Homo sapiens: one gene and its partners. The protein of the gene in region 6 purifies or fractionates together with the protein of the main gene of each other region. This does not show direct contact. Each region holds a gene or a part of one and is shown on either strand. Other genes may lie near its edges.

The links.
Region 1: the proteins of CLEC4D (region 6) and YTHDF3 purify together in Homo sapiens (affinity purification with mass spectrometry, with the first as the bait; one large-scale study listed by BioGRID). This does not show direct contact.
Region 2: the proteins of CLEC4D (region 6) and MYO1C purify together in Homo sapiens (affinity purification with mass spectrometry, with the first as the bait; one large-scale study listed by BioGRID). This does not show direct contact.
Region 3: the proteins of CLEC4D (region 6) and LANCL1 purify together in Homo sapiens (affinity purification with mass spectrometry, with the first as the bait; one large-scale study listed by BioGRID). This does not show direct contact.
Region 4: the proteins of CLEC4D (region 6) and GLO1 purify together in Homo sapiens (affinity purification with mass spectrometry, with the first as the bait; one large-scale study listed by BioGRID). This does not show direct contact.
Region 5: the proteins of CLEC4D (region 6) and CLPX purify together in Homo sapiens (affinity purification with mass spectrometry, with the first as the bait; one large-scale study listed by BioGRID). This does not show direct contact.
Region 7: the proteins of CLEC4D (region 6) and HADHA purify together in Homo sapiens (affinity purification with mass spectrometry, with the first as the bait; one large-scale study listed by BioGRID). This does not show direct contact.

Annotation. Positions count from the first base shown.
Region 1 is NC_000008.11:63,185,431-63,189,586, reverse strand, and holds part of YTHDF3 (YTH domain-containing family protein 3), read right to left. Parts: intron 3,441-4,156; coding exon 1,842-3,440; intron 1-1,841. UniProt on the Homo sapiens protein: Specifically recognizes and binds N6-methyladenosine (m6A)-containing RNAs, and regulates their stability. M6A is a modification present at internal sites of mRNAs and some non-coding RNAs and plays a role in mRNA stability and processing.
Region 2 is NC_000017.11:1,471,662-1,475,817, forward strand, and holds part of MYO1C (unconventional myosin-Ic), read right to left. Parts: intron 3,372-4,156; coding exon 3,277-3,371; intron 3,198-3,276; coding exon 3,151-3,197; intron 3,030-3,150; coding exon 2,949-3,029; intron 568-2,948; coding exon 462-567; intron 364-461; coding exon 246-363; intron 1-245.
Region 3 is NC_000002.12:210,431,760-210,435,915, forward strand, and holds part of LANCL1 (glutathione S-transferase LANCL1), read right to left. Parts: intron 3,701-4,156; coding exon 3,628-3,700; intron 2,805-3,627; coding exon 2,728-2,804; 3' UTR 1-2,727. UniProt on the Homo sapiens protein: Functions as a glutathione transferase. Catalyzes conjugation of the glutathione (GSH) to artificial substrates 1-chloro-2,4-dinitrobenzene (CDNB) and p-nitrophenyl acetate.
Region 4 is NC_000006.12:38,674,958-38,679,334, forward strand, and holds the end of GLO1 (lactoylglutathione lyase), read right to left. Parts: intron 2,427-4,377; coding exon 2,338-2,426; 3' UTR 968-2,337; downstream 1-967. UniProt on the Homo sapiens protein: Catalyzes the conversion of hemimercaptal, formed from methylglyoxal and glutathione, to S-lactoylglutathione. Involved in the regulation of TNF-induced transcriptional activity of NF-kappa-B. Required for normal osteoclastogenesis.
Region 5 is NC_000015.10:65,164,321-65,168,476, reverse strand, and holds part of CLPX (ATP-dependent clpX-like chaperone, mitochondrial precursor), read left to right. Parts: intron 1-1,691; coding exon 1,692-1,846; intron 1,847-4,156. UniProt on the Homo sapiens protein: ATP-dependent chaperone that functions as an unfoldase.
Region 6 is NC_000012.12:8,511,908-8,516,661, forward strand, and holds the start of CLEC4D (C-type lectin domain family 4 member D), read left to right. Parts: upstream 1-1,595; 5' UTR 1,596-1,825; coding exon 1,826-1,853; intron 1,854-3,328; coding exon 3,329-3,421; intron 3,422-4,754.
Region 7 is NC_000002.12:26,227,353-26,231,508, reverse strand, and holds part of HADHA (trifunctional enzyme subunit alpha, mitochondrial precursor), read left to right. Parts: intron 1-1,214; coding exon 1,215-1,317; intron 1,318-4,156. UniProt on the Homo sapiens protein: Mitochondrial trifunctional enzyme catalyzes the last three of the four reactions of the mitochondrial beta-oxidation pathway.

The DNA of each region.
Region 1 (4,156 bases), on a different chromosome or scaffold from region 6:
ACAAAGACAAGATATTCAGCTTCACACACAGAAACAATCACTGATTTTACATAGAGTTAAGTTACCTCTTTATCTTAATTTCTACATAGGAACAAGCATTCCATAAGAACATGCTTTCCATAGTAACAAGCATTATTTACTGGAGGAGCTTCTAACTTTACCCCTACTAAGTTTCAAAAGAAATTTAAATGTATCCCCTATAGAAAAGCCCATCCATTTTCTCTTTCCACCTAAAAATAGGACCCCAATTTTACGTTACAGTTTGGAAGAGAAAACTTTCCCTAGTTGAACTGACTCTTGTGGCCCTGTGATCAAAGTCTAGCCAATATTTGGGGGGCTAATCCCCATATGGGCCACTCAATAGGATATTTTTAAAAAATAAAAATAAAAATATTCTGGCCAATATAATACAAGGATAAACAGCATGTTTTATTTCAGGAATGTCTCCCTCAATCTTACAGAGGGTATATAACAGAATTAGGAATCAAATTCTGCAAAGCCTCTATTTTGTACAAGTGCTTTAAGTATAAAAATTATAAAAATACTTCAAGAGTTTTATGTTTTAAAAACATATTTTGCCAGGCACAGTGGCTCATGCCTGTAATCCCAGCACTTTGGGAGGCCGAGGCGCACGGATCACGAGGTCAGCAGTTCAAGACCAGCCTGGCCAACATGGTGAAACTCGTCTCTATTAAAAATACAAAAATTTGGCAGGCATGGTGGCGTGTGCCTGTAATCCCAGCTACTCGGGAGGCTGAGGCAAGAGAATCACTTGAATCCGGGAGGCGGACGTTGCAGTGAGCCAAGACCACTCCATTGCACTCCAGCCTGGGCGACAGAGAGCGACTCCATCTCACAAAAGAAAAAAAAAAAAAAAAAAAAAAATATATATATATATATATATATATGTAATTTCTTATAAACACAAAATTAGAGTAAAACATTTATTTAAAAGTTGTTTCAGCTGGGTGCAGTGACTCAGGACTGTAATCCCAACATTTTGGGAGGCAGAGGGGTAGGGGCAGATCCTTTGAGCTCAGGAGACCAGCCCGGGCAACATGGTGAAACCCTCTATCTACAATAAATACAAAAATTAGCCAGGCGTGGTGGTGTGTGACCGTAGTCCCAGCTACTCGGGAAGCTGAGGTAGGAGGATCACTTGAGCCCAGCAGATCAAGGCTGCAGTGAGCCATGTTCACGCCAGTACACTCCTGCCGGGACAAGAGAGACCCTGTCTGAAAAAAAATTAAATAATATATAAAATATAAATAAATAAAAACTTGTTTTAAGTGCCAGGTTCAGTGGTACAGGTCTGTAGTCCCAGCTACTTGGGAGTCTAAGGCAGGAGGATTGCTTGGGGCCAGGAACTTGAGGCTATACGCCATAACTGCACCTGTGAATAGCCACTGCACTCCAGCCTGGGCAACACAGCAAGATGTCATCTCAAAAAAAAAGTTGTTTCAAACTCTAAATATATTTTCTCCTATGTTAGTATGATTAATAATATTAATGATTAGAGCCCCTGGTTAGTTCATGAAGTCTGTTTAGTTACAAATGCCAAAATTCATTCAGCTTTGATGATAAACACTGAGGCCCAATGGCCTTTATCATCTAGGGAGTATGAAGAATGAGCAAGAGGCTAACTCAGCGTGAGTTACCCTGGGAAAGGAAAGAAGAAATGGTTCATATAGGACACACATAGATACCTTCAAGGGTGTTTGTAGAGTTGTTTCTTAAGTAGTTGGTTTCCTTCACAGAAAGTTCTTAAACTCAGAATATACCCATCCATGCACCCCACCAGCAATACAAAGACCCCAAACAAAAAATTACTATATTCTTACCCTACGCATGGCTTCCTCCTCTTCTTGACGCTTTTCATAATGTGCAAAGTCATCAAAGATTGAGGTGGTATGCTTGAAAGTAGCAATTATTTTAAGCACTTGCTTAGCTTTTTCTAGGGGTACCTCTTGAGTGTCCCTTGAATTGGTAACCGGTTTGTTGTCATTATTTTCTAAGCGAATATGCCGTAATTGGTTATTGGGAACATCTTTGACAAAGATCCATTTAACTTCAAATTTGCCCTTCCACTTATCCTGAGACCAGACACCAGCATACGCATTATAGTCCACAACAGACTTCATTTCAGCCACTCCACAAAAATGTCCACTGCCATTCACACTGAAGAGTAAATAGAGTGGGCCTTTCCCATTCAGGGAACGGTAAGCTGCATCCAAACGCTTATTACCATGCTCAGTACTACACCAGATAGAGTATTTAATGGAACGATGTATGTCATCCTCAGAGTAGCTTTTAATTATAAACACACGTCCATTCTTCAGATTCCAATCAAAGTCTTTGGGATTATAGTTGTTTATGGCCTTTAGCTTTTCCAGCACGGGATGCACTTCTACACTAGAAGGTGAAGCACTGACAGGTACAACACCTAAACCAAAGTTTTCACTGCCCGCTCCATTGTTCTGGTTGAAGCCTGCTCCCCTGTTACGAGGAGCTACCCAGCGATTCTGCAGCTGCTGCTGTTGAGGCTGCACTTGGTGAGGCTGGGCCTGTGGCTGAGGTCCTTGTTGCTGCTGTGGTTGTGGTGGTTGAGGCTGCTGTTGAGGCAGTTGGCTTTGCACCAATGGTGGTGGTTGAATTAATGGCTGAGGCTGCTGGATTATAGTTTGAGGAGGCAGAACTGGTTGGGTTGGTGGAGCCTTTACCACTGACCCTTTTTCATCCCAAGTTCCAATATTCATGTTGTGTTTTATAGGAGGTGGTGGTACAGCAGAACCCCCAATTCCCACATTGCCCTTGGGTTTAAGTTTCGGTTGAGGTTTGGCAGGCTTTCTGGCAATGGCAGCCCAGGAGGTTGGTTTAGGTGCTGCACTGCTAACTGGGGGCACACTATTGGTTGCAATGCTAGTCATACCACTGCTGCTCAAAGCTGTACCTACAGTTTTTGTCACTGCAGCTGTCAGGTCACCACCAATTTTCAGTCCAGTCATGCCTTGCTCAATACTGCTAATGCCAGGCACCTTACTCAAAGTATCATTGCCAAATCCAGCCTGTCCATCAGTAATAGCTCTCCCAAGAGAACTAGGTGGATAGCCATAACTGCTACTATAAGCAGAACTTTGTGTTGATTGTCCCTGAGATCCACTTGTCCCCCATGTAGAGAAATCAGCATTACCAGGAAAAAAGTTAAATCCATGTTGACCAAGAAATGGAGGGGTATTTCCTAATGCCCCAGGTTGACTAAATACACCATCTGGTATATAGTGATGTTCTCCATTACTCATTTGTCCATAGGTTGTCAGATATGGCATAGGCTGGTCTCCAGCTGTGGACCACGCTGCTTCCCCAAGAGAATATGGAAATCCAATGGATGGAGCATAGTAACTAGGCATGTATGGATCTGACATTGGTGGATAGCTGTTACTCTGCAAAACAAAATATCACAATCAGTAGCGAAATGTCCTCTTAAAAGAGCAAAAAAAGAAATCTGAAAGATTAAAATCAAGAAGTTTTAAGTAAATGAAAATAAAAGATGTACCTATTCTAGATAAACAAAATTAAAATTTCAAATCCAGTTTTATCAACAGAAAAATTTGCTGATGAGTAGTCACATCTTAAAATATTTCTTACAAACTAACCTATATGGCTTTTTTCAGGGATGAGAGTGGGGGTATAATGAGTATTATTTTTGTTTGAAGAGCCAGGCCCTCTGTCACAATTTAAAAATATCATAATTTCTACAAAAGGCTAATATATAAACTTTGTGGACACAAAATTACCATTTACAGCCAGCTGTACTTTAATCAATTGATGTATGCAATCACTTACACACAAGGATTAAATAAACTAGACAACTCTGCCGAATAATAGAGGAATTACAGCTTATCTATATGATGGAATCCAGTTCAACCATTAGATTTTGTACTTTCATTAAGGAAAAAATGGAGAAATGCTCACAGTCTTGAGAAGATTCAAGATTACGTTTATAGCATGATGCAAATTTCTTTTTGTTTTGCTTTGCCTTGTTCATTTCAAAAAAAGACATAAAACAAATTCCTTATCATAGTTTCTTATTGGTGGAATAACAGACATGACTTTTCTTTATACTCTCCTCTTCCCCAAATTTTACACAATAAACCTA
Region 2 (4,156 bases), on a different chromosome or scaffold from region 6:
GGACGGAGGCCTCCTGTACCCCTGACCGGGTGCTCCTGGAGGGCACGGCCTGGGGGAGCCGGGTATTCTTTCCACCCAGCCTGATGTCAGGACCGCAGCACCAAGGGCCTCCACCAAGGGCAGCCCAGGGCCTCCGCATCCGCATTTCTAAAATGGGGCCGAGAACCCTTGTCTGCCCTCATGGGACCTAGGGGCTCCTACCCTCCCGCTCCCCTTCCCTGGCACCGAGCAGGACCTGCCCCCACCTTTGCAGGAAAGCTTCGTATTTGCGGCGATAGGCAAAGCCGGCTCTGCGCACGCGCAGGTTTTCCAACAGCCCCAGGTACTTCACCTGGTGGCGGATCAGCACCTCGTCAAAGCGGCCTGGGGTAGGGGGAGCGCCGTGGTCAGCGGGCTGGCGCTGACGGCCTGTCTCCTGCAGGGGAGGCCCGGCCCCGAAGTCCCCCGTGGGAGGGGCCTACCGGGCTGTTTGGCATCATTGGGTTTGATGCAGCGGACGTAGGCGGGCTCCTTAGACTGCAGGATCTCCACCAGCTGCAGGAGGCTCATCTTGAACTGGGTGGCGACCTGGCGAGCCAAGAGGCATGGGAGGTTGGCCGGAGCTGGGCTAAAGCTGCTGACCCCAGCAGCGAGTACCCCACTCCCCTGGCTGGTGACGCGCGCAGCAGCCTCTGATTCTGCCTGGTCCTTACTCCTCCCACCACAGCTTCCTCGCAGCAGAGGAGGGGGCCAGACTCCACCCCTTACCCCTCTGGCTGGGCGAGAGACCTCAGTCTACGAGCCTCACTCCAGCCTAAAACTCCTGCTCAGGTCTCCCAGCAACCTCAGTGCTACACCTCCCTTTAGTGGCCCTTCTTTTTCTTTCTAGAACTTCAGGGCTGCGTTCCTAAACAGCATGTCCCATGCTACGCATTCAGCTAGTATCTGGGTATGCTGCTCTGCGGGACCTGGAAGGATCTCAGGCCTGGCGGAGGAGCACGCTCCTTGGCAAAGACTCACAATCCCGGTGTTCCGAGAGTAGCAGGTGTATGCCTGTGGGTTCTGAGAGCCCCACAAAGGGACAATTCATCCAGTCTGAGGGTTAGGGGGCACCAGGTGACGTCTTCTGGAAATGACGCTCTGCTGAGCTTTAAAGGATAAGGAGGAGGGGCGGGTGAAGTGGCTACAGGGAAGGACTGAGGGGGAGCTGCTAAGTACTCCGGCAAGATCCAGTGGCTGGACAAGGGAGACAAGGAGAGAAAAGAACGAGGGGGCCGGAGCCGGGCGCGGTGGCTCACGCCTGTCATCCCAGCACTTTGGGAGGCCGAGGCGGGCGGATCACCTGAGGTCAGGAGTTTAAGACTAGCCTGGCCAACATGGTGAAACCCCATCTCTACAAAAATAAAAAAATTAGCCGGGCACGATGGCGGGTACCTGTAATCCCAGCTACTCGTGAGTGTGAAGTGGGAGAATGGCGTGAGCCCAGGAGGCAGAGGTTGCAGTGAGCCGAGATCGCGCCACTGCACTCCAGCCTGGGTGACAGAGCGAGACTCCGTCTCAAAAACAAAAACAAAAACAAAAAAGGGGATGACACCCAGGTTTCTGGCCTGGGGGACTGGGTCAAAGAAGGAGAAAGCCTGGAGGGGCAGACCAAGGGCCCGTTTGTTATAGACCAGTGGGATCTAGGGTGCCCTGGGGCCACCTAGGGGAAGAGGATGAGATACACGAGTCTGTGGCTTGCTGGAGAGGCCTGGGCGGGAGGGTGTGTAGGCATCCTCAGCAGGGAGACGCTAGGGCCGGGAGGATGTGGTGCTTCGGGAGAGGGTGGGGTGGACGGCAGCAGCGGGCAGGGGCACAGTGAGCCACACCCTGGGCAGCATGTCGCCTGCATGCCCTCCCTGCCAGGCAGTCTGGCTTCCACCTCCCTATGGACTCACTGACCTCACTCTTCTGGGGCTCCCCTGACCCTCTTTTTGCCAAGCCCAACAGCCGTACCTCCGCCTTCAGCTCGCTGGAGCCCTCCCTGCATCTGGCACCCTGGCCATGCCTGCCTTTCCCCCGGTCCTTCTCCTTGATGCCATCGCTTTCCTGCTCACCTCATGGCCTTTTTAGACTCTCTGTGTCTGGACTGGGCCCTCACTATAGGTTCATCTGACATTCCCAAGTCATCTCCAATGCTTCCTCCTCCAGGGAGCCTCCCCAACCCCTCACCCCTTCCGCCCCGTCAGGCCGTTTGCTGTTCCCTCTTCTAAGTTTGCAAAGCACCCTGTGCACATGTTGCTGCAGGCACACCCACTCATTGTGGTACCTCAGTGCCTGGCAGTGTCTGCTATAAATGTCTGCTGAGTGGGTAGACACATGACAGCAACCGCACAGAGGCAGCTGTCAACATATGGGCACCCACAGAGACAGACGTACACAAGGATTCCCCTACAGACACAGCCCACACTGAAGACACACGACTCCACTATAGACACAGCACACACACACAAGTAGGCAAACAGGGACAGGCGTGGTGGCTCACACCGGTAATCCTAACACTTTGGGAGGCCGAGGCAGGTGGATCACCCGAGGTCAGGAGTTTGAGACCAGCCAGGCCAACATGGTGAAACCCCATCTCTACTTAAAATACAAAAAATTAGCCGGGCATGGTGGCAGGCGCCTGTAATCCCAGCTACTCAGGAGACTGAGGCAGGAGAATCGCTTGAACCAGGGAGGTGGAGGTTGCAGTGAGCCCAGATTGCGCCACTGCACTCCAGCCTGGGCAACAGAGCGAGACCCTGTCTCAAAAAAAAAAAAAAAAAAAAAAAGTAGGCAAAGAGGCACCTAAGGCAGCCCCCTACAGACACCTGCAGATGTGCACGGGCTCACACGCGTTCACACGCACGCTGCCAGCTCCCAGGCTCACACAGGCCCTCATGCACACTCAGGCGCATGCACCCCTGCGCCCGGTCCCGCCACCTCCTCACCGTCTCTGGCCGCTTCTTGTCACTGAGCTCGCTCCGGTCAAAGCACTGGCTCATAATGGGATTCTTTGAGCTACACATGGTCTGTGTGGGCAGAGCCGGGGTCAGGGTGGGGCACAGGGACAGGCAGGACAGGCTCCTGGACACAGGTGCAGAGCTGTGGGCTATCCCCACCCCCACCCCGGCCTCCCCACGTCCTCCTCACCTCCTTAAGGTTCCGGAAGAGAAGGTCATTGTTTTTGTCCAGAAACCCTGGGAGGGGAGAACCGACGTGAGGTGAGACAGAGCCTCCCCGCAGGCCCCTGTGGGGACACAGCCCCAGGATCCTCACCGGTCACGCTGTAGGTCACCTCCCCCGCATAGTGCAGAAGGCGGAATTCCCCTCGGCCCAGAGATTTCCTGGTCCGCTGGTCAGCCAGCTTGTGCCTGGGGGTGACAGGGAGGAAGCTGCAGATGGCTGCCGGCCTGAGCCAAGCCCTCTGCCTGCTGAAAGGGCCTCAGGAGCAGGAACCAGCTGCCCAGGTGCACCCCAGGCCGGGCACAGTGGCTCACGGCTGTAATCCCAGCAGTTGGGGAGGCCGAGGTGGGTAGATCACAAAGTCAGTACTTCGAGACCAGCTTGGTCAATATGGTGAAACCCCATCTCTACCAAAAATACAAAAATTAGCCAGGCGTGGTGGTGGGCGCCTGTAGTCCCAGCTACTCAGGAGGCTGACAAAGGAGAATCGCTTGAACCTGGGAGGCAGAGGTTGCAGTGAGCCGAGATGGTGCCACTACACTCCAAAAAAAAAAGAGCAGGTGCACCCCCAGGGCTGGGTCACTGAGGCAGGCCAGGCAGGGCCAGTGGCCTCCCTGATCAGAGCGGACCATGGAGGCTCAGAGAGGTAGATGGCCTTGGCCAGGGCCACACAGTGCCAGGACCGGGACCTGGGCCTCCTGACGGCCAGGGTACGCTGCAGGGAGGGAAACTCTCGTTGCTTCGGCCGCTGCGGGCTCTGCTCAGAAGGGGTGGTGAGCTGCGCACTACTTTTCAGAATGGAATCTGCTGCCCCAAGAGAGCACTTAAGTCTTAGGCGTGTTTATACCCTTTCACCCATTTGCTTTTAAGAACTATTTCAAGCAGCTAACCAGAGACACGGACAAAGATTGAAGGCACGGAGATGTTTGTGGCAGCCTTGTGATTCCAGCAGAAACCTGGGAGGCTGGCCAGG
Region 3 (4,156 bases), on a different chromosome or scaffold from region 6:
CATCAAAGATGAAAAGAGAGCCACATGACTCAGGATTAAAGACTGACAACTCAGGCCACACCGCCGTCCATGGTATCTATGGAAATAGGATAATGTTAACTTTTTACATGATGAAAAGTTAACTATTTGCAATTTCTAAATTACTATAGAAACAGAAACATGTGACAGGATAAATGAACACTGCTTGATGACCTTTGACAACCTTTGAAGGTTTTATTACCTAGTCCCTGTATAGAGATAAGAGATGATGGTATTGAGTTTTCTAGGAACCAACTTCTGGGAAAGATTTTTAAAGAAGAAAAATATCTGAGAGAAAAATACAAACTAGAACTGAAACAATGATGCCACTTCCTTTTAAAACTAAGAAGCCTAGTATAAAAGTTTCTTTAGTTACTACCATGTTGTTAGGGGATTGTCTCAGCGTTGTAGGCTTTGCCTGAATTTAAAATCCCATCAAAACTTTTTTGCTCTTAAGCATAAATACAACAAATAGCATACATATAAAATTGTGCCAGTTTAGTAAGTTTTGAAAAGCTTAAAAAAAAACCAAACTCTAATTGTGTTTGTGTGGATGAATTTGCTAACTGATGACAGTAGCTAACCCATTTATGCTGGGGGTTGCAATTTTTTGTGTGAAAAATCAGACCTTGGCAATGACTTTGAGCAGTAGGATGTAAATGACTCCCACAAGCTTAGCATTCCAATAATGGAACACTAGGCATAAATGGGTTAACAAGAATCTTATTTGAAATGTTCTTCTCCCTGCCTTGAAATCTTCCTGGGGTTAAGCATTGCTATCACGATGCTTGGAGAACTGTGATCAAGTCTTCTCTGGCTCAGAGAAACTGTTATTTTTCCCTTGCTTAGTAACGCAGCTAAAAGCATAGGCACAGTAGAGTAAGACATTTAACTAAACCAAATGAGCTTTATTCTTTCAAGCTGAACACCCCAGGCAAAGGCAAATTAGCTTTGCTGTGCACTACTTTTACTTCTTACTGTAAGTGCTGATATCGCTGATTGAAAACTTTCACAAGAAAGGCAGAGCATGCACATGCTTACCAGCAGCACTTCAGCAATCTGAGAGGCACAAGGTAGTGCCAACTTACACAAGTGACAGAAGGAGGAAGCTGATCCTGGAAACTGAGCAGTGGGCTGCTTTTTAAATCCTACTGCCAGTGGCCTTTAAAAGGTCAGTTTCCAATAATATTAGCTCTTTTGGTGCTAAACAGGAGATAATAGGAGACTGCTACCTGCAGGAACCAGTACACACTCAGTGGGGATTTGGTTTGAAGTTCCAATAAAAATAGCATGTTTTTGTGACCAAGAGAGCTGTGAAATAGGCACATTTAAAATACTTAGACCCTGTTATTTTAAAGCTACAATTTTTTTTTGCAAAATCAGTTGCAAAGAGACAAAACAAGCCAGGCAAAGGCAGTAATAGAAAGAGTAGAAGCTGATGAGTCAAAACACTTGAACAGAATTTGAAGCACCAGAGAGTCTTTATCTACTACGGAAAACCTGATTCTGTGGTCTCAGAAACTGATGAATTGTTAAGTCTAGGATACGCAAAGATGCATTTGTTCTAAGCATGAACTCTGGATAATACCTCCTCAATAAAAAGCATTTCTATTAAATGCTTAGTTTAGTGTTTTTGTTCAAGTTATTGGTTAGATAGTATTCCCTTTCTCATCTCCCCTTTTTAAACAGAAGTAGAATACTGTACAATTTAGTGAAAAGACCAAAGTTCAGATAAATTGATAGGAAGGAAAATATTTTATGGCTTATACCAAAGAGTCAGCACTAATGCATAGTCACTGTAAAAACCCAAGTTAAAGTTTAGAAAGTCAGTCAGAGTGGACTGAAATCCTAGGTTAAAGCATATTCATACATAGAAAATTGGCTTCCTGATCTTATTTGAATACTGAAAAACACACATATTTAAATAAAGAGTTCCAAAAAACTCAGATTATTTTAGAGAAAACACAGACTGTTATTGTTAGCTTATCTTAAACTAACCTTCAACTCAGAATTTTCACAATGATCATCATGTTTTATAAGTTTTTGATTAAAAATGTTGGCTTCTGAAGGCTGTATGCCTTACCGACAAAAACAGGCCAATCTGAAAGTATGTTTACCTCTAGTCCAAATAGGCATCAAGAATTTAAAAAATGATATTTAGGTACCAAGTCCAGATTGTAACTCTTGGAATTTTTCTCCTGGAAGCATTTAGTTATATTTCTGTCCCCTTTCAAAATGAACCACCTAGAGAAAAGCAAGTCAGAAAATTGTCTGCCCTCCAGTTGGAGGAAAAATATTAAAGAGAAGTGAAGTGTAATACCCAATAATAGTCACATATTTATCTTTATCTGTATTGAGTTTCTTTTAAACATTTTTAGAACAGTAACAGATGGTTATATTCATAAACTTAAATAAGATTTCCTCCAAGTTCTGGAATATATGTATACAATCTCAAAACACTGTACATATCACTCACTCTCCCTTTAGGAAGAAATGGAAATTAAAGTTAAAAGACTTCCTTGGATACTTCTAAGTAAAAGTAAATGATAATGGAAGGGAACTGAATGAAAGATAAATTCTGAAAAAAGCTAACAAAATCAAGTCCACAGTTTGACTCTTTGTTTCCTTGGAAAGCAACGGAAGCACTTAGCTTGGGTTTGAATATACAGAAAGGGTCATGCAGTGAGTTGCAGGTGGCATGCTATCCTTTCAGAGTTCAAATGCAGGGAACCTGGCTTTTGTGGGGACTAGCAGGTCAGCCAGGAAATATATTGTTCCAGCCATTCCTGAAGAAAGAGAAAGAGGCAAAAGTTATTATACCAAATGACTCCATTTCATAGGATGGTTCTTTTTCCCCCATATCTTTATTGACAAAAAAAGTCACAGCATTTCAGTCTATTCAAACACACAAACATCAACAAAGGGTGCCCACCAGTGATGGCCTCGTCCCTAAGGTCTGGATCAAGGCCGCACTGGAGGGTGGGGGTGTCCTCTTGGCCCTCCTCCTTCGGCATCCTATGGCTTTTTCCTCACCTCACTGACACCCCCCGAGAGCAGTTACAACTCTGCAAAAACGAAGGATGGCTCCATTTTTTAACATTAACAACATTACAATATTAACGGCAATGATTTAAATGAAGTGTGAATCTATCTACGTTTACATACACTGCAGTTCAACATTAGAAGAGATCACTAGTGAGGTGTTCAGCCTTATATCCCGGTGGAAGACTGGAGAAAGAATGGAGCCAGACAAGTTCAAGTCACAGCCCTGCCATTTACCAAACATAAGCTCCTGAGCCTCAGTCTCCTCGGCTATGACATGAAGGTAGTAGTGCCTGTATGTTTTTGCTGAATGATTTATGAGGGCGTCTGCAAAATGCCCAACATGTGCCTGGCTCCATAAAAGGGAGTCACCTGATGACTACCAGTATTGGGACTGTGGTATTACATGTGCTAATTGATTTTTAATATCGATTTAGCATATTAGGAAATAAAAAAGTAGTTTAAGAATAATTATAAAATTTTTTGCTAAAACTTAAATACATTAATTACCAAGCAGAGAAGTAGATGCTGATATTATAGGGCAAATAAATAAAGTGTACAAAATACCTTCAAAGAGAGAGAAAGGGGTGTCTGGTGTTCTGCATCCATGTTCTCCATACTCTAAGCACCATTCAGCAAACTGAAAATGAGACCAAGTTAAATTAGTATAGTGATTTCTTCCAGAGACAACCCCAAAAGTTAAGAGGTTGTCTATACAAATTACTCTGAAAAATCAAACACTACCTTCACATCAGAGAAAGGAGATTAATGCAGAGAAAAGGATGGTTTGAAAGAGTACACAGCATGGGAGGAATTTAATGAGCTGTCTGAGTCACGTATCTACAAGGTTATTCAAGAAGAAAGGCACAAAATCACCCTACATCTTTATTTTTTTCTCCCATTAATGCTGTTGAGTAGAATTATGTCCCTTTAAAGGAATGCTAATTTAATTGAAAGGCTTTTCAAGGTTTTCCTTAAATAACTGTATTTGTTATCCAAGACCTATGGTTTTAGGGATAAATGAATTAAATCAGATGAACTAGAACTCTTTCTACAACCTCCTGGGAGACCTGCTTTTTTTTTTTTTTTTTTTTTT
Region 4 (4,377 bases), on a different chromosome or scaffold from region 6:
GTTTAAGCCACCCGGTCTATGGTATTTTTATTAAAATTGCCTCAACTAAGACACACTCTATGCAATCATGGTCAAAATACTGTGTGGGAAAGCCTCAAGTGATTCCCTTTCAGCCATCTGCTCTTCATTCAAACCACCTGTATTATAATCATTCTAGCCTTAGCTATGTAGGGCTCATAGGAGACTGACTTGTTTTACATTGACCATGATCATGGAAAATAAGAAAACTTACTTCTTGTGACCTACTTTGTACTTTCGTACAACTTCTCAGGTAAGTGAATTTGGAAGTGAATTGTTCTTTTCCCTAACAAGGCGTAGTGTTACCATATACAGTTGTCCCTCGGTGTATGTGGAGGATTGGTTCCAGGACTGCCCATGGATACCAAAATCTGTGCATACTTAAGTCCCACAGTTGGCATATGAAAAGTCAGCCCCCTTTGTACTGTATTTTCAACCCACATTTGCTTGAAAAAAATCCCTGTATAAATAAACCAGTGGAGTTCAAACCTATGTTGTTCAAGGGCCAACTGTACATTTAAAAAAAATGCATATAGGAATGAATTTAAAGAATGAGCAAGGGCTATCTTTTGGCAAGTTTTACTCAGCAAGTGGAGAAGGCTTCTTTCCTTGGAAATAAAGCTTAAATTACTGAATTTGTGAATGTATTAGCCCTCCCGTTTGTCAGTTCTAGCACTCAACATGTGAAATTGGTCTTCATAAGTTCCTTACCTTTTGATATTCTTCTGTTTGCACTTTATCTACCACAATCCTTTATTCCGTATTCACTTTCTTCTTCCCACCTTTCCCACACTCCCTTATCCATAGACACTACCTGCTTTACGGGCTGTACAGAATCACAATTGTTCTCTCTTCAGAATGAGCCTACAAGCCTTTTCAAATCCTTTCAGTACTCACTAAGGGGAGTTGTTTTTTTTTTTTTTTAAAGAAAGAACATGATGGACAAAGGTTTACAAATTAAACATAGTCTTATTTGAAGTTTCATTTTATTTCAGTCTATAAGTATTGCTATTTGTTTAAAGCACTCACATAAATCCATTTCACCCAAAAAGGAAACATAAAGTGCTTCTAGCAGTACAAGCACGGTTGGCATGGCCTTTCCAAAGGTCTTCCACTAGAGTCTAGAGAAATCTAAATATAGTCATCCACAAACTGGATGTTTTTATTTTCTGAGCCATTAGAGATTTTCAAAATCACTTTGATTTTTAAAAACTCATCAAATGTGAATCATGGCGGGGAAGACCACTGAGCTGATTTCTGATAACTAAGTTATCACTGAACATAATTTATCATATATGGCTACTGGCATCATGAAGACCTTGGGATAGGGAAGACTCTTTATGAGAAATATAAACATCACTTGTGTAGGAATCACCAGGTGTCCCTAGAGCAGTTTTGTACTAAAGACTTCTAGTGTTTACTCCCTCACCACGGTACTCCAGCCCAAGAGCCAAGAGCACAATGGTCAAACTCACTGAAGGTTTTTACAACAGGAAACCAGTGGAGGTATTGTGAGGTACTACAACTTTGAGGCACAATCTAAATACTAAAAATGATTATGAAATCTTGAGTTGAGCTGATTGATGCCCTCTTAAATCCATTAATAATCCATGAAAGTGATTTCACATGCCTAGCCTGCTTTCTTTCTCACATGACAGCTGGGAGTATTAAATGAGATAAAGTTGCAGCCTAGCCCAGTGTCTGGGTACCATATCATTTCCTTCCTCCTCCCCTTTCCCAAATAAATAAGGTTAGTCCTTGAACTTTAAATGTACTTTATAATAAGAAGAAATCACTTTTTCTATCAGTATCCTTGTCAGCATGATTTGAATTGCTCTCAAGAGTACCTACTCTTTTGTAAAATAAACACTTTGTACTTTACTGAAAGAACACTAGTGTTCTTTCCTTTCCGTTGTGAAAAAAGTTGTTTCTGAGGAATTGAAACCCCAGAAGATAACTACAACAAAAACATGTTAATTTTTTTTTAAAAATGATGATTCAAAGGCAGATTTGAAGGGAAGTAATATTTAGGTGGCAGAAGAAGGCAAATGCAGCCTCTGAAGGGAACTGTTCTAATTATTACCTAAAAAATAAAGTTACACAACTATATTCAAGGACATGAGATAAAGCACTGCTTGAAAACCAGAATGACTGAACAGTTAGGTGAAAAGGAACAGCTGAAATAGGAAGGGGAAATGGACTGAAGAATAATTTGAATCGGGACAGTGATCCATCAGTCCTAGATGCTTCTGGTATGTAAATATCTTGAATCACATTGTTTCCTTTCTTCTGAAATCTCAAAGGAGAATTCTCACAGCACTACATTAAGGTTGCCATTTTGTTAGGATTCAAAATTTCAATCCAGTAGCCATCAGGATCTTGAATAAATGCCAGGCCTTTCATTTTACCTGTAAAATGAAAATTTTCATTATTGAAAAGACTAAAAAAGAAAACACCATAAAAATGTTTTTCTTTCTTTGAGACAAGGTCTTGCTCTGAATGTCAGGCTGGAGTGCATGGGATGATCATGGCCCAAGGCAGGCTTGACCTCCTGAGCTCAGCCTGCCAAGTAGCTGGGGCGACAGGCACGCACCACCTTGCCTGGCTAATTTTTTGATTTTGTAGAGGCGGGATCTCAATGTACTGCCCAGGCTGCTATCAAACTCCTGGCCTCAAGCAATCCTCCTGCCTTGCCTCCCAAAGTGGTGGGATTACAAGCACAAACCACTGCACCTGGCCTTAAAAACTTTTATTAATTAAAGATTTACTTTGCATTTTAATGAAGTACATTATTTTGTTTACAGTTTTAAATTTTAAAAATTCTTATTGTCAGAAAAGTATGAAAAGTCATACTTTTCATAATGACTAAAATGTTATCTTGCACACATTGCAAATACCAGCCCTCCTGAAATAAACTGTGGGACTGGCTGCATCTTTTAGGTATCAGGCATTTGCCTCACCTTCATGATACCACACTACCAGTTCAGTAGTTACAGAAATTGTCTTATTTTAAAGAAGAAAAAGAAAATAGGGAGGTGCTGAAGGGAGCTGGTAGCATGGCTTACCCCCACAACCAAAAGACCCAGATGCTTGGGTCATACAAACCCTTTTAAATACTATCCTAGGCAACCCAAGCTCTGCGAGAGTCTTTCTCCCAGGAATTCAAAACTGAGATTGAGAGTCTAGTATGTCAGAGCTGTTTGCTTAAATGGAAAAATATGACCTCAGAAATTTATTTGGGGACCATTATGTTGAATTGGTTTGACTCTTATCTCTGCCTCCTTTCTCCAAGATCAATCCTAGAGGAACATAGATGGAAAATGCAGGAAAAAGAAAGAAAGAGAGAAAGAGAAAGAGAAAGAGAAAGAGAGAAAGAGAGAAGGAAGGAAGGAGGGAGGGAGAGAGAGGAAGGAAGGAAGGAAGGAAAAGAAAAGGAAAAGAAAAGAAAAGAAAAGAAAAGGAAAGAAAGAAAGAAACCCGGCTGGTGACAGCTGGGGAGAATGGGTGAGGATGGGGCCGGGTGACTGTTTTAACTTGGGCTGTGTGGGAGGTGGTAGTTCTGGCCTGGACCAGAAGGCAGTGCATAATGGCTGCGAGAGAACAGAGTTTTGCTCTTGCTCCTCCCTCACTGCTGTGTGCATCGGCACCTGCCCTCTCGCTTGTTCAGATGTCCTTACCAGTAAACAAGGGCAGTGCAGGAGCCTTGTGCTTGTGAGAAACTGAGAAAAACTGGTAGGGCCGAATGATCTCCCCAGCCCTCTCTCCACGCCCAGGGCTAGGGAATAACACTATCGGAAGTGTCTCCTACTAATACTCTTCCCTGAGGGATGAAGTGGGAAGATCCAACCTGAAGAGGTGTTTTGTGGAAGGTGAAATAAATTTAAGTCTCATTTCTAGGTGCCTAGGAATCTCTGGCCTAGGCTTATCCAGCCCATTGTCCTGAGATCATGTGGGTTGTTAAGGACAGGGATCTGGCCATTCTCCTATTCACACTGCTTGATGTGTTAGAATAGCGAACAGTTGCAGGGGAAAAAAGCTCAGAGGCAAAAAATAATAATTTGAGAAACATAACCATAAAACACCCCCAAAGCAATGGACTGTAGATTCAAACAGAAGAAATATTAGAATAATGGACCAAGAGCTATTTTTGTTTTTTTTCTGGAGACAGGGTCTTGCTCTGTCGTTTATACTGAAATGAAGTACAGTGGATCATAGCTCACTGCAGCCTCCAACTCCTGGGCCCAAGCAATCCTCCCACCTCAGCCTCCCGAGTAGCTAGGCATACAGACTACAGGCATGTGCCACCATGCCCAGATAATTTAAAAAAAAACCTTTTTGTAGAAACAAGGTCTTCCTATG
Region 5 (4,156 bases), on a different chromosome or scaffold from region 6:
ATGATGGTTTCTAGCTTCATCCATGTCCCTACAAAGGACATGAACTCATCACTGTGTATCCACAAATTTTTTTTTTTTTTTTTTTTTTTTTTTGAGACAGAGTCTCACTTTGTCGCCCAGGCTGGAGTGCAGTGGTGCAATCTCATCTCACTGCAAGCTCCACCTCCCGGGTTCATACCATTCTCCTGCCTCAGCCTCCCGAGCAGCTGGGACTACAGGCGCCCACCACCACACCCAGCTAATTTTTCTATTTTTAGTAGAGACAGGGTTTTACCGTGTTAGCCAGGTCTCGATCTCCTGACCTCGTGATCTGTCCCCCTCGGCCTCCCAAAGTGCTGGGATTACAGGCCTGAGCCACCATGCCTGGCCAAAAATTTTTAAAAGAAAAAAGAGACTCTTTTTATCCTCACTTTAAACTACCTTTGTATTGCTTTCAAAGTCTGCATGATTATCTTTAAATCCAATCAGTATGACTGAGAAAGCAGTATTTTGTTAGTTTCTTAGTGGTTTTTTGATCAGAGAAATAGGAACTAGTGGAGTAAAGATAAAATAAGAAAGATATGAAATAATTATATATATATTTTTTTCTGAGATGGAGTCTTGCTCTATCTCCCAGGCTGGAGTGCAATGGCGCAATCTCAGCTCACTGCAACCTCCACCTCCTGGGTTCAAGCGATTCTCCTGCCTCAGCCTCCCGAGTAGCTGGGATTACAGGTGTCTGCCACCACGCCCAGCTAATTTTTGTATTTTTTTTTTTTTTTTTAGTAGAGACGGGGTTTCATCATGTTGGCCAGGCTGGTTTCTAACTCCTGACCTCAGGTGATCCACCTGCCTCAGTCTCCCAAAGTGCTGGGATTACAGGCATGAGCCAACACGCCCGAAAAATGCTCATGGGTTTAAGAGAATGTAAAGAATATACATTTTTTACATTTTTAGGAATTAAAATAGATTTATCTCTTTCAACTTTTGTATATGTTTGACATTTTTTATAATATTGGAAAAATATATGAATCTTGTATTTTACTTTTTTAGTTTGTTCATTCAAGTATTTCAATAAAATAGATGATTACTCCATATTCTCAAAGAGGTTTTAAATCTTTTTTAGTGGGCCGGGTGCGGTGGCTCACGCCTGTAAATCCCAGCACTTTGGGAGGCGGAGACGGGCAGATAACAAGGTGAAGAGATCAAGACCATCCTGCCCAATATAGTGAAATCCTGTCTCTTCTAAAAATACAAAAATTAGCTGGGCATGGTGGTGCACCCCTGTAATCCCAGCTACTCAGGAGACTGAGGCAGGAGAATTGCTTGAACCCAGGAGGCAGAGGTTGCAGTGAGCCGAGATCACACCACTGCACTCCAGCCTGGCAACAGAGCGAGACTCCGTCTCCCAAAGAAAAAAAAAAATCTTTTTTAGTGAATGGAAAGTTGGAAAAATTTCACGCAATCTTTTCTTTTAAAGAAGTATATCACAAAATGAAAGGACCTAATAGAAATGAGCAAAAGGTAGTTGACTGATCTATCTTTGTAGTATACTTGCTATATAAATGAGGCTGTTTGTGTGGCAAGTAGATTGAACAGCAAGTCTACTTTTTGTCAGGTGCGTAGCTTTCATTTACAGTGGAGTCTTTAAGGTTAAACACTATTGGAATTATTTTTTATTTCCCTCTACTTATGTCTGTTTTCTTTTACAGCATCCACCCGTTTTGTCAAGTGTGAAAAGTGTCATCATTTTTTTGTTGTGCTATCTGAAGCAGACTCAAAGAAAAGCATAATTAAAGAACCTGAATCAGCAGCAGAAGCTGTAAAATTGGCATTCCAACAGAAACCACCACCTCCCCCTAAGAAGGTATAAGTCTTAAGCTCAGTCTTACAAGTATTTTATCTTGAAAACATTCCATTGCTTCCCTCTCCCAAGTTTACACTGAATCCTAATACTAGTATATAAACAAGTATTATAGGTTCATAATATGGACCATATGTGGCTAAATTGTTATTGCCTTTTGGAATTTAAATATGGGGTCTGTTGCTTTTTCCCATGTTATGATTACTGTATTCAGTGGCAGTGAAATATAGCTAGATAATTATTAAAATGTTAACTTGTTAATACCAAGTTAATCTGAAATAATATCTACAATAGAGCAAGCAACTTCTGATTTATTTTTGTTCATATGGACCCTTAAATAACACCAGCCTAGGCTGGTCCACTTGACTAGCCTTAAAAAAAAAAGCCTGCAATTATCTCCCTTAAATTGGTCTATTTTATGGTAAAACAGCCTTCAGTCTAATAATGTAAGTAAGTAGTTTTTTCATAGCCAGTGTGCCGGGCTGCTCCGTATAGCACTGTGGCTTTGGTAGTGTGGACTCTTTAGAAGTCTCAGGCAGAGTATGATTTGGTCCTGTGAGATGTAACAGAATGTACCACCAGCTCCATTGGGTATTTGGTGTGTGCTTTTTGAGAACTGGGAACCCTTGTACCCTGGCTATGTGCCTTCTGTTCTGGCTGTGTCTCAGATGTTTGCACACTTAGATTATTTCTCACTGCCTCAGTGTATCTTTCTTCTACTGTGTTTAGATATCAGTGCATTTGTCTCTACTTCCAAATGTGCTGTGACAGATTTAATGTCATTGGTATAATTTGTAAGGAATAAAGATGTTTAAAACTATAATAAAATGTATATGGTCAACAACTAAAGAATTTGTCATTAAAAATGGAAAATATATTGGGCTTTATATTCTATACGAATTTGTGTAGACTTTAGACATGTGAGTTAAAATTCCAGGCAGTTTGGCCGGGTGCGGTGGTTTGGTTCACTCCTGTAATCCCAGCACTTTGGGAGGCCGAGGCGGGCGGATCATGAGGTCAGGAGATCGAGACCATCCTGGCTAACATGGTGAAACCCCGTCTCTACTAAAAAAATACAAAAAATTAGCCCGGCGTGGTGGCGGGTGCCTTTAGTCCTGGCTACTCGGGAGGCTGAGGCAGGAGAATGGCGTGAACCCGGGAGGCGGAGCTTGCAGTGAGCCAAGATCACGCCACTGCACTCCAGCCTGGGTGAAAGAGCGAGACTCCGTCTCAAAAAAAAAAAAAAAAAAAAAAAAAATCCAGGCAGTTTAACTAATTTCAGGAGTTTTTGAATTATTTATTTTTTAATCAGGGTTTCACTCTGTTGCCCAGGCTGGAGTGCAGTGGCACACTCATGGTTCACTGCAGCCTTAACCTCCCTGGGCTCAAGTGATCCTCCCACTTCAGCCTCCACAGTAGCTGGGACTGCAGGTGTCTACCACTATGCCCAGCTAATTTCTGTAGAGACAGGGTTTTGCCATGTTGTCCAGGCTGGTCTGCACCTCCTGGGCTCAAGTGATCCATCCGCCTCAGCCTCCCAAAGTGCAGGGATTACAGCCGTGAGCCACCAAGCCCGGCAGGAGTTGGTTAATATTAATTCACCAACCATTTCATTTCTATTCACTAAAAACTTAAAAAATTTACCCCAGGTTCCAAGCTGTTGGCAATAACCAACTGTAGAATAGAGCTTTAGCTACTATTAAGAATAAAGTTTTTAGGGCTGAGCTTGGTGGCTCATGCCTGTAATCCCAGCACTTTGGGAAGCCAAGGCAGGAAGATTGCTTGAGCCCCAGGAGTTCAAGACCAGCCTTGGCGACACAGTGAGACCCTGTATCAAAAAAAGAAAAAAATATATTTTTAGAAAATAAAAAAAAATAAGAATACAGTTTTTAGAGTCTCAGATAAATGAGTAGCTTTAAAGTTAATGTCTGAGAAAAAATTAAATTTACTAAAACACATAGATACTGATAGTATAATGGCTTTTGATTATGTAATGCCTGTTTCTGAAAAGAGTAGTTTTATAATGTTATCTTTGTGAAGAATGTTATTCATTTGATTGACAGGTATGGATTTATTTTAATGATTTACATTAATGTTGATACTTTTAGACCATGGTGGCATGTGTATGTATTCTAAGTTACTTTAAATTTAATTTGTTATCAAAAAATAAAGATTGATAGCATTGTTTATAGAATAGAAATTAGCACAACACTAGTAGAGTACAGTGATACTTTGTTAAGCTAGAGAACAAATGAATTGTGTTTTTGTTCATTTAGTGTTCAGGGCCTCTGAATCATTGCTATATAATGTATT
Region 6 (4,754 bases):
GGCTGCAATCCTGGAGGCTGAGACAGTCAAGAGGGAGTGGAAGGGCCTCTGCTGCTCTGGGAAGGTATCTTATAGGGCAAATAAGCTCTTACTGTGTGCCTAAGAGAAAGGAAGAGGGAAGCGAGGCAGGTGTCATGGCCTTAAGAACTTTCTAGAGGTTTCTATTTATTGACATTTGACCTAGACCTCTTCATGAGCAAGGCGCAGCCTTGGGCTACAGGTAGGAAAGTCAGCATCCTACTCTCTCCTCAATTCCATCTGTTAATCCACCAACCCAAATCCCTCCCACCCCCACCTGAAGTCCAAATAAGGTAAAATGATAAAATGATGTGCTGTTCTCTCAACAGTTGGCTGAGTCTGAATTGGAGGGTAGGAAGCATTTGAAGCTCTGCCCATTTAGTTCCAGAACAAAAAATAAGCAGAGGCAGGAGGTGGAGAGCAAAGACGCTGGCAGCCCTGCGTCTGGTCTTTATAGCTGTGTCTTTGGATTTGTAGGCCACTCCTCAACTTTTCAGCTCCCGCACGATTCCTTAGGGCAAGCGACCAGTGGTTGACACCGCATATACACCTGGCTTAAAGTTATTGACTCGCTGCCAGTTGGAGACCCAGCTGTCCTCTGGACTCATCATCGCAATGATTCCATCAAAGGAGGAGCTGGTGCAGCCATATAGCATCTCTCAGTTACCCTTCATCTGTAGATATGCATCTCAATAGTCACAACCATCATATTCAAACTGGTCTATAGTACCTTGACCAGTGAACACAGCAAACAGGCCCACAGATGCCACAGGTCCTTCAGCACCGTCTCCAGGGCCATCTTCTCCAATGAGAAGAGCAACAGCAAGGAAGATGGCCACAGCCTGAGCACCCGCAGGAAGTAAACAGCTCGTTAGCCGGGTCTCTTCTTATAATTCCATCATGAGGACCCCATTCTCATGACCTCATATTAAACCTAATTACCTCCCAAACTTTTGACCTCCAAATGCCATTACGTTGGAGGGTAGTGCTTCCACCAATGAATTTTGAGGAGATACAGACATTCACTCCCTAACAGTGCTATAAATGAAGTCAGGGACCCTGATGGTGTCTTTATCACAGAATCTTACATTTTCTTTGTCTTTGCCTTAACACAACTCTTTTTGCTCACCTAGAAAGTTCTTGGGATTTAATTAACTGCTCTATCATCTCTTCCTCAACTCGAAAACAAAGGTTGCTGTGTCTTCACATGCCATGTACACACAAGGTATACTTTAAAAGTTTTTGTTCATTGTTCACATTGTCTTTTGCTCTCTTAGACTCAACTTTTTATTCAGTCCAGAGAACTTTTTAGTATAGAACTCACCCCAAGAATATAACTGCCTTTGAAAATATAATATTCACAAAAAGAATTTAAAAAGAGGGGACATTTACTAAATTTTTATTGGGCATAACAATTATTTCTTTTAGGGCGTTGCTAAATTTTTTGTCTAAATGAAAAAAAAAACAAATTGAGAAATTCCACATTTCACACTGATCTAGTGATCTCAACATACTTGTGGGTTTCTACTAACTGTTGTTTGGTATTGCTTTCTCAATTTCCTTTTTTTTTTTTTTTCGCCTCATCTCCCGGAATGTATCAAAGGAAACCCCTGTCTTTGAAAAAGACTTCTTTTGAGCTAACTTTCTTATACTGGTACCTTTCTAATCTCACTACAATATGTAACATTGGTGTTCGATCTCAAGTATTTCTGAATATATTCCCCTATCCACAGAAATATACTCTGGGGGAAAAAAAATAGAACAAATTCTTGCCGTCCTGACCATTGAACAAGAGACTAATTAGACAATGGGGCTAGAAAAACCTCAAAGTAAACGTGAGTACTTTCTCTCCTTTCCATTTCAAAGAAGCAGATGGAATTATACTAATTTAAAACATATGAATTGATGGTAGTTTTAAAGATTGTTGATGATGACGGGGAGAAGGAGGTGGAAGGAAATAAAAATGACGTTGGTGAAGAGGAAGGACATAGAGTCAAATAAGTTGGATAACAGAAACTTCTTTATAAAATGTATATTGGACCAAGAGGGGAGATAAAATATATAAAAGAGAAATAAGATGAAAAGAAAGAGAGTAATATGAGAAGATTCTTTTAAAGAAAAAAGAGAAAAGGAAGATGTAGAAAAAGCATTTAGGCTTATGCTGTATCAGAGGCTCTAACTGTCCCATTTTATGTTTGACTTAAGTGACACCAGTGGATTTGTATTGTGATAATATTAAATAATATTTTTGATAGATATATAGAACAAGTGTGGAAATGTTTAAATTAAAATTAAAGTTTTACTTTATCTCATCACCCTACCATGGCAAACTGTAATCACAGTGTGATCCTATTGAATTACCTTTTTAGGTAACAATATTTCTTAGAGATTTTTTGCATCAATATATACTGATTACATGCTTATTTAATTACTATACAGAATATCATTGTGTGAAGGGACCATAATTTAGAATTTCCACTATTGATAATATACATGTAAATATTAGATTACAGTATGTGTTTTCTATTTTGAGAAGTACTGCAATGAATATCTTTTAACATAAACAAGCTCAATTATTTCTATAGAATAGACACCTGTAATTGAAATTATTGTGGCAAATGAAATGCATTTAAAAATGGATAAATGCCACTAAATTGATCCTTCTAAAAGGCATTCCTAATTTTCCAGTCCAGGCAGCAGCATTTATTTTCTCACTAAGAGTGCTTATTTCCCCTCAGCCTTGCCAACACTGCATGTACTTAATTTACTTAAAAAATCTGATGTGTGAAAAGTTATACCACAATCTTTTCGTTTACAGTTCCCTGATTGGGCATATTTTTGTTTGATTAGTGGCTATTTATAACTTCAGCAAATTAAAATTTCAGCAAATTTCCTGCTCAGAGTTTTGCTCAGTTTTCTAGTTGATTTTGAAATACTTTATCCAGTGCGGATATTAATATTATGAGAAGACTTTCCTTTCATACGTTCCTTGACTCTAACATTGCTTGTGTTATATAGAAGTTTTAATTTTTATGTACTCAAATTATCTATTCTAATGGCTCTTGGGTTTTGTATCTTACTTATAAAATTCTTTTCATTTCAAAATTACCAAGAAATTTTACATTTTTCTTTCTTATTTATTTATTCATCAATAAGCTCTAAAATTGATTTATTTGGAGAAAATATTTATGCTCTTCTCTAGATCTGAAATATTTGGTTTGCTGTCACTTTTAGATTGCTCCTTGGTAGAATTAGCTTTCCTAGCTTGTAGCTGAGAGGAGGTTAATCTCTATTTTTCTTTTGGTCCTAGTGGAAGGAGGCATGCATCCCCAGCTGATACCTTCGGTTATTGCTGTAGTTTTCATCTTACTTCTCAGTGTCTGTTTTATTGCAAGTTGTTTGGGTAAGTTATTAGCCAAAGTAGAACTCTTCTTGAATTATTATTTCCAAACAACTTTTCTGAAGTTGCTCTAAGCCTTTTGGTATCTTGATTTTTCCTAGCATAACCTATCTATAATATCTTCAGGGTCTTGCACTGAATATTCAGAGCTACATTCTTGACCTTCTGTCTTTCAATGGTGGTACCTTGTGATAGAGATTGATTGATGGAATTTAGACCATTTTCTGTACATGTAAAAGTTGGTTACTATAGCAAATTTCCCCCCATTTTGGACTGGGATCACAAAGGGATACATCTTATGAGAAAAGAGTAAGCAGAAGAAAAATAACTTTCAGATAGACTGGCTTTGAAAAGAACAAGGTTGGAAGAATTGTTCTCTCTCTCTCTTTCCCTCTCTTTCTTTCTTTTTTCCTTTCTTTCAACCTCTTTATTGATGTACGATTGACATATGAAAACCTGTACATATTTAATGTATACATCTCAATTTGGGGGATTAGTATACACCCTTGAAACCATCACCACCATTAAAAAAATTCTTTCTGATATCAAACATAAAATAATTATAATTAAAGTAATATGATATAGGTGCAAGACAAATAGACTAGAGGAAAATAAAGGAGAGCTTGGTTACAGATCCTGCATGTATATAAGACTCTTTATATAAAACAAAAGAAGATATCTCAGACATATGGGAAAAGGACAATTTTGTTCAATTAATGTTGCAGAGCCCATTGATTATTTATATTTAAAAGATGAAATTGGTCTCCTGCATCACACTGTATACAAAAACAAATCTAGAGCAGATTATTGTCCAAAATGTGAAAAGTAAATCAATAAAGTTTTAAGAAGATAAATGGAGAATATCCTCATGACCTGGAGGTAGAGAACGATTTCTTAAACAAGCCACAAAATGCACTAGAAAATAAACATTGACAAATTATACTACATTAAAATGAGTTACTGTACAACAAAACATACCAGTAACAGTGAAAATAAAAAGCCATAGGAGAAGATACTTGTAATGCATATAATTAATAAATAATTCACATGTAGATTATATACAAATTTTTTCAAACCAGTAGGAAAAATACTTACAATAAAAAAACTGGGCAAAGTCTTAAATAGGTACTAAAACAAAGAGAAAAATGAAATGTCTAATAAACACACAAAAGTGCCAGCCTCATTAATTAATTATCAGGGAAATGCAAATGCAACTCACAGTGAGACACCTTTGCAAACATAACAGGATGGCAACAATAAAAAGTCTGGCACTACTAAATATTGATGATGCCATGGAGCAAATGGACCTCTAGTGAATTGCTTCTGGTGGAGTTTA
Region 7 (4,156 bases), on a different chromosome or scaffold from region 6:
TAAGAGGCAGACCTTTTCCCTCATTGTCTGATTTGGATGTTCTCACTGCTGTGTTGTATGGAACCAAAAGAGGCTCAGCAGGCTTTGAATTCCAAGGAGAAGGGAAGGACAGTCAGACCTGGATGCTGCAGAGCAATCTTAATGTCAACTCAAGGGCCCACTGAACCTTATAGCTTCTGGCACTGTAGATTCCTCAGTGAAAACAAGGCTCAACAGAAATACTCTTTGCAGGGAAGTTGATCTCAATTGAGCACAAAAGAAAACAAGGTTTATGGTGTTAATTTTCTAATAATAATAATGTGCTTTCCTTCATAGGAATGTCATAAGGATTTATTGAAAGAATGAATATGCATATATGTGTATCAAAAATATTTGCTGAGTTTCTTTCTTTCTTCTTTTTTTTTTCTTAAACTATAGCTGGTATTTGAATGTTGCTAGAAGCCTTTCTTCTAGTATGCCATATAAGCAGCCCTAGCTGAGTTCTATTTTTGTTAAGCTTAAAATTCTTTTTAAAGACTTTGTCAAAACTATCAGGTTTCTCACAGTCTTCTCTAGTTTCAATATGAGAATTTTATTTTATTTTATTTTTGGGACAGAGTCACTTTTGTTGTTCAGGCTGGAGTACAGTGGCATGATCTCGGCTCACTGCAACCTCTGCCTCCGGATTCAAGCAATTCTTGTGCCTCAGCCTCCCAAGTAGCTGGAATGACAGGTGTGCCCCACCATGCCCAGCTAATTTTTTGTATTTTTAGTAAAGACAGGGTTTCACCATGTCGGGCCAGGCTGGTCTCAAACTCCTAACCTCAGGTGACCCGCCTGCCTTGGCCTCCCAAAGTGCTGGAATTACAGGTGTGAGCCACCGTGCCTGGCCAGAATTTTACATATTATATATATGATAGAAAAAAACCCCTCAGAATAACAGAAATGTACAATTTTAGGAAACATGAAATTCTTTACCTTATTAGTATAAGAATCCTATATATTGAATTAAGAGATAAAGACATTTTTGCTTCAGCTAGAGGTATCTAATCCCCAAAGTTACCCAAGTGTATATCAGTATATTAAATATAACTTATCTATGCTGTTGACAAATAGCATAAACATATGGCTTGACTTTTCTCATTTTAATATTTGTTCATTTGATGATTTGTAAACTATATAATTATCACCCTGATTTTTTTCCCCCTATATTCTCATCCTTGCTTGCCTGTTAGGTGGGTGTGCCTGCTGCTTTGGACATGATGCTGACTGGTAGAAGCATTCGTGCAGACAGGGCAAAGAAAATGGGACTGGTTGACCAACTGGTGGAACCCCTGGGTAAGTGTTAGCACATCTCAGAGTCAGACCTTATAAAGTTACTTATTTTCTTAAAGAGTTAACCTCTTAGGCCAGGCACGGTGGCTCACACCTGTAATCCCAGCACTTTGGGAGGCTGAGGCGGGAAGATCACTTGAGGTCAGGAGTTTGAGACCAGCCTTGCCAACATGGCGAAACCCTGTCTCCACTAAAAATGATTAGCCGGGTGTGGTGGTGCAAACCTGTAGTTCCAGCTACTTGGGAGGCTGAGGCAGGAGGATCGCTTGAACCTGGCGGGGCTGAGGTTGCAGTGAGCCAAGATCATGCCATTGTGCTCCAGCCTGGGCAACAGAGCCAGACTCCCATCTCAAAAGAAAAAACAGTTAACCTCTTGAATATCACAGGAAGCACAGAGAGAAGCTCAAACTCTTAAGAAATGAGTCATTATTCTAAGGAAGGAAGTTTTATAAAATAGCTAATACTAAATCATTTTCAACATCACCCTGATTTTTATTTTGCTTTATAATTAGAACATTAGGAGTACAGAATTCAGTCAAGTCATTATTTTTGGTTCTTAAATTACCTGTATCATTATCCATGCATAACCTTCCTTCAGTTTCTTGTGTCTGTTTTAGTAATATAATAAATGAAACAACCAACCTGAGAATATTAACAATAATTGATATCTACTGATGGGCTACTTCCTCCCATTCAGTTTCTTTGCCTCCCTTTATCCAAAGAAGCCACTATTCTGACTTGTGTGTTCATTACCCTCTTATATTTATTGAAAATCAGCATTATTGAGATATTACTTACATAATAGTAAATGTATTAATTTTGTGTGTGTGTGTGTGTGTGTGTGTGCGCGCGCACACATGTTGGGGTCTCACTCTGTTGCTCAGACTGGAATATGGTGGTGTGAATATAGCTTGTTGCAACCTCAACTTTTTGGGCTCAAATGATCTTCCCACTTGTGCCCCCCGAGTAGCTGAGACCACAGGCATACGCTGCTACACCAGCTAATTTTTTATTTTTTGTAGAAACGAGATCTCACTCTGTTTTCCAGGCTAGTCTCAAACTCCGGGCTCAAGTAATCCTCCTCCCTCAGCCACCCAAAGTGCCGAGATTTACAGGTGTGAGCCACTGTGTCTGGTGAAATTGACCAACTTTTAATGTATAATTTGAGTTTTGAAAATGTATATAGCTGTGTAAACACTGCCACAATCCAAAAATAGCCGTGCATGGTGGCTCACACCTGTAATCATAGCATTTTGGGAGGCTGAGGTGGGAGAATTGCTTGAGGCCTGGAATTCAAGACCAGCCTGGACAACAGAGCAAGATCCTATCTCTTAAAAAAGAATTTTTTTTTTTCAATTAGCTGGGTATCATAGTGTATACCTGTAGTCCCAGCTAGTCAGGAGGCTGAGACAGGAATATTGTTTGAGCCCAGAAGTTCAAGGCTGTAGTGAGCTATGATCACACCACTGCACTCCAGCCTGAGCAACAGAGTGAGATGCCATCTTTTAAACAAAAATTTTTAAACATTTCTGGTATGTAGTTTGTTTTAATCTTCGTTCACTTAGCATAATGCTTTTGAGATGCATCCATACTGTTGCATATATCAGCAGTTTGTCCTTATTGCTGAGTGTTACTCCATTGTAGAAATGTACCATAGTTTGTTTATCCGTTCACCAAATGATGAGCATTTGAGTTGTTTCTAATTTAGGGCTATTCTGAATAAAGCTGCTATGAACATTCATCTTTAAGTCTTTATGTGGGCGTGACTGGGCGTGGTGGCTCAAGCCTCTAATCCCAGCACTTTGGGAGGCTGAGGCAGGCTGATCACCTGAGGTCAGGAATTCAACACCAGCCTGACCAACATGGCGAAACCCCATCTCTACTAAAAATACAAAAATTAGCTGGGTGTAGTGGTGTGCACCTGTGGTCCCAGCTACTTGGGAGGCTAAGGTAGGAGAATCACTTGAACCCAGGAGGTGGAGGTTGCCGTGAGCCAAGATTGTGCCACTGCACTCCAGCCTGGGTGACAGAGCGAGACTCTGTCTCAAAAAAAAAAAAAGTCTTTATGTGGACAAATGTTTCATTTCTGTTGGGTAAGTACTGAAGAGTGGATTGGCTAGTCCATATAACAGATATATATTAGCTTTTGAAAAAAAAAGTTTGGCCTGAGCAACATAGCAAGACTCTGTCTCAACAAAATAAAAAGTTTTAACTAGTTGGGTGTGGTGGCACATGCCTGTAGTCCTGGCTACTAGGGAGGCTGAGGCAGGAGGATTGCTTGAACCCAGGAGTTTGAAGTCACATGGAGCTATGATCAGGCCACTGCACTCCAGCCTGGGTGAGAGAGGGAGACCTTATCTCTGGGAAGAAAAAAAAAAAATTTAGAGATGAGACTTTGAGTCTTGCTCTGTCACCCAGGCTGGCCTCAGACTCCTGGGCTCAAGCAGTCTTCCTGCCTCAGCCTCCCAAGAAGCCGGGATTACGAGGCATATGCCACTAGTATTTGCTAGGTATGTGTTTGCTTTTCTGTCAGACTGTTTTCCCAAAGTGGTTATACTCTTTTGCATTCCCACCAGCAGTGTATGAGAGTTCTAGGTACCAACCACTTTGCATGGTCAATCTTTTTAATTTTAGACATTCTAACAGGAATGTAGTAACAGTTCTTTTTTCTTTTTTTTTTTTTGAGACAAAGTCTCGCTCTGTTGCCCAGGCTGGAGTGCAGTGGAACAATTTTGGCTCACTGCAACCTCTGCCTGCCAGGTTCAAGCGATTCTCCTGCCTCAGCGTCCCAAGTAGCTGGGACTACAGGCGCCCACCACCATGTCCAACTAATTTTTGTATT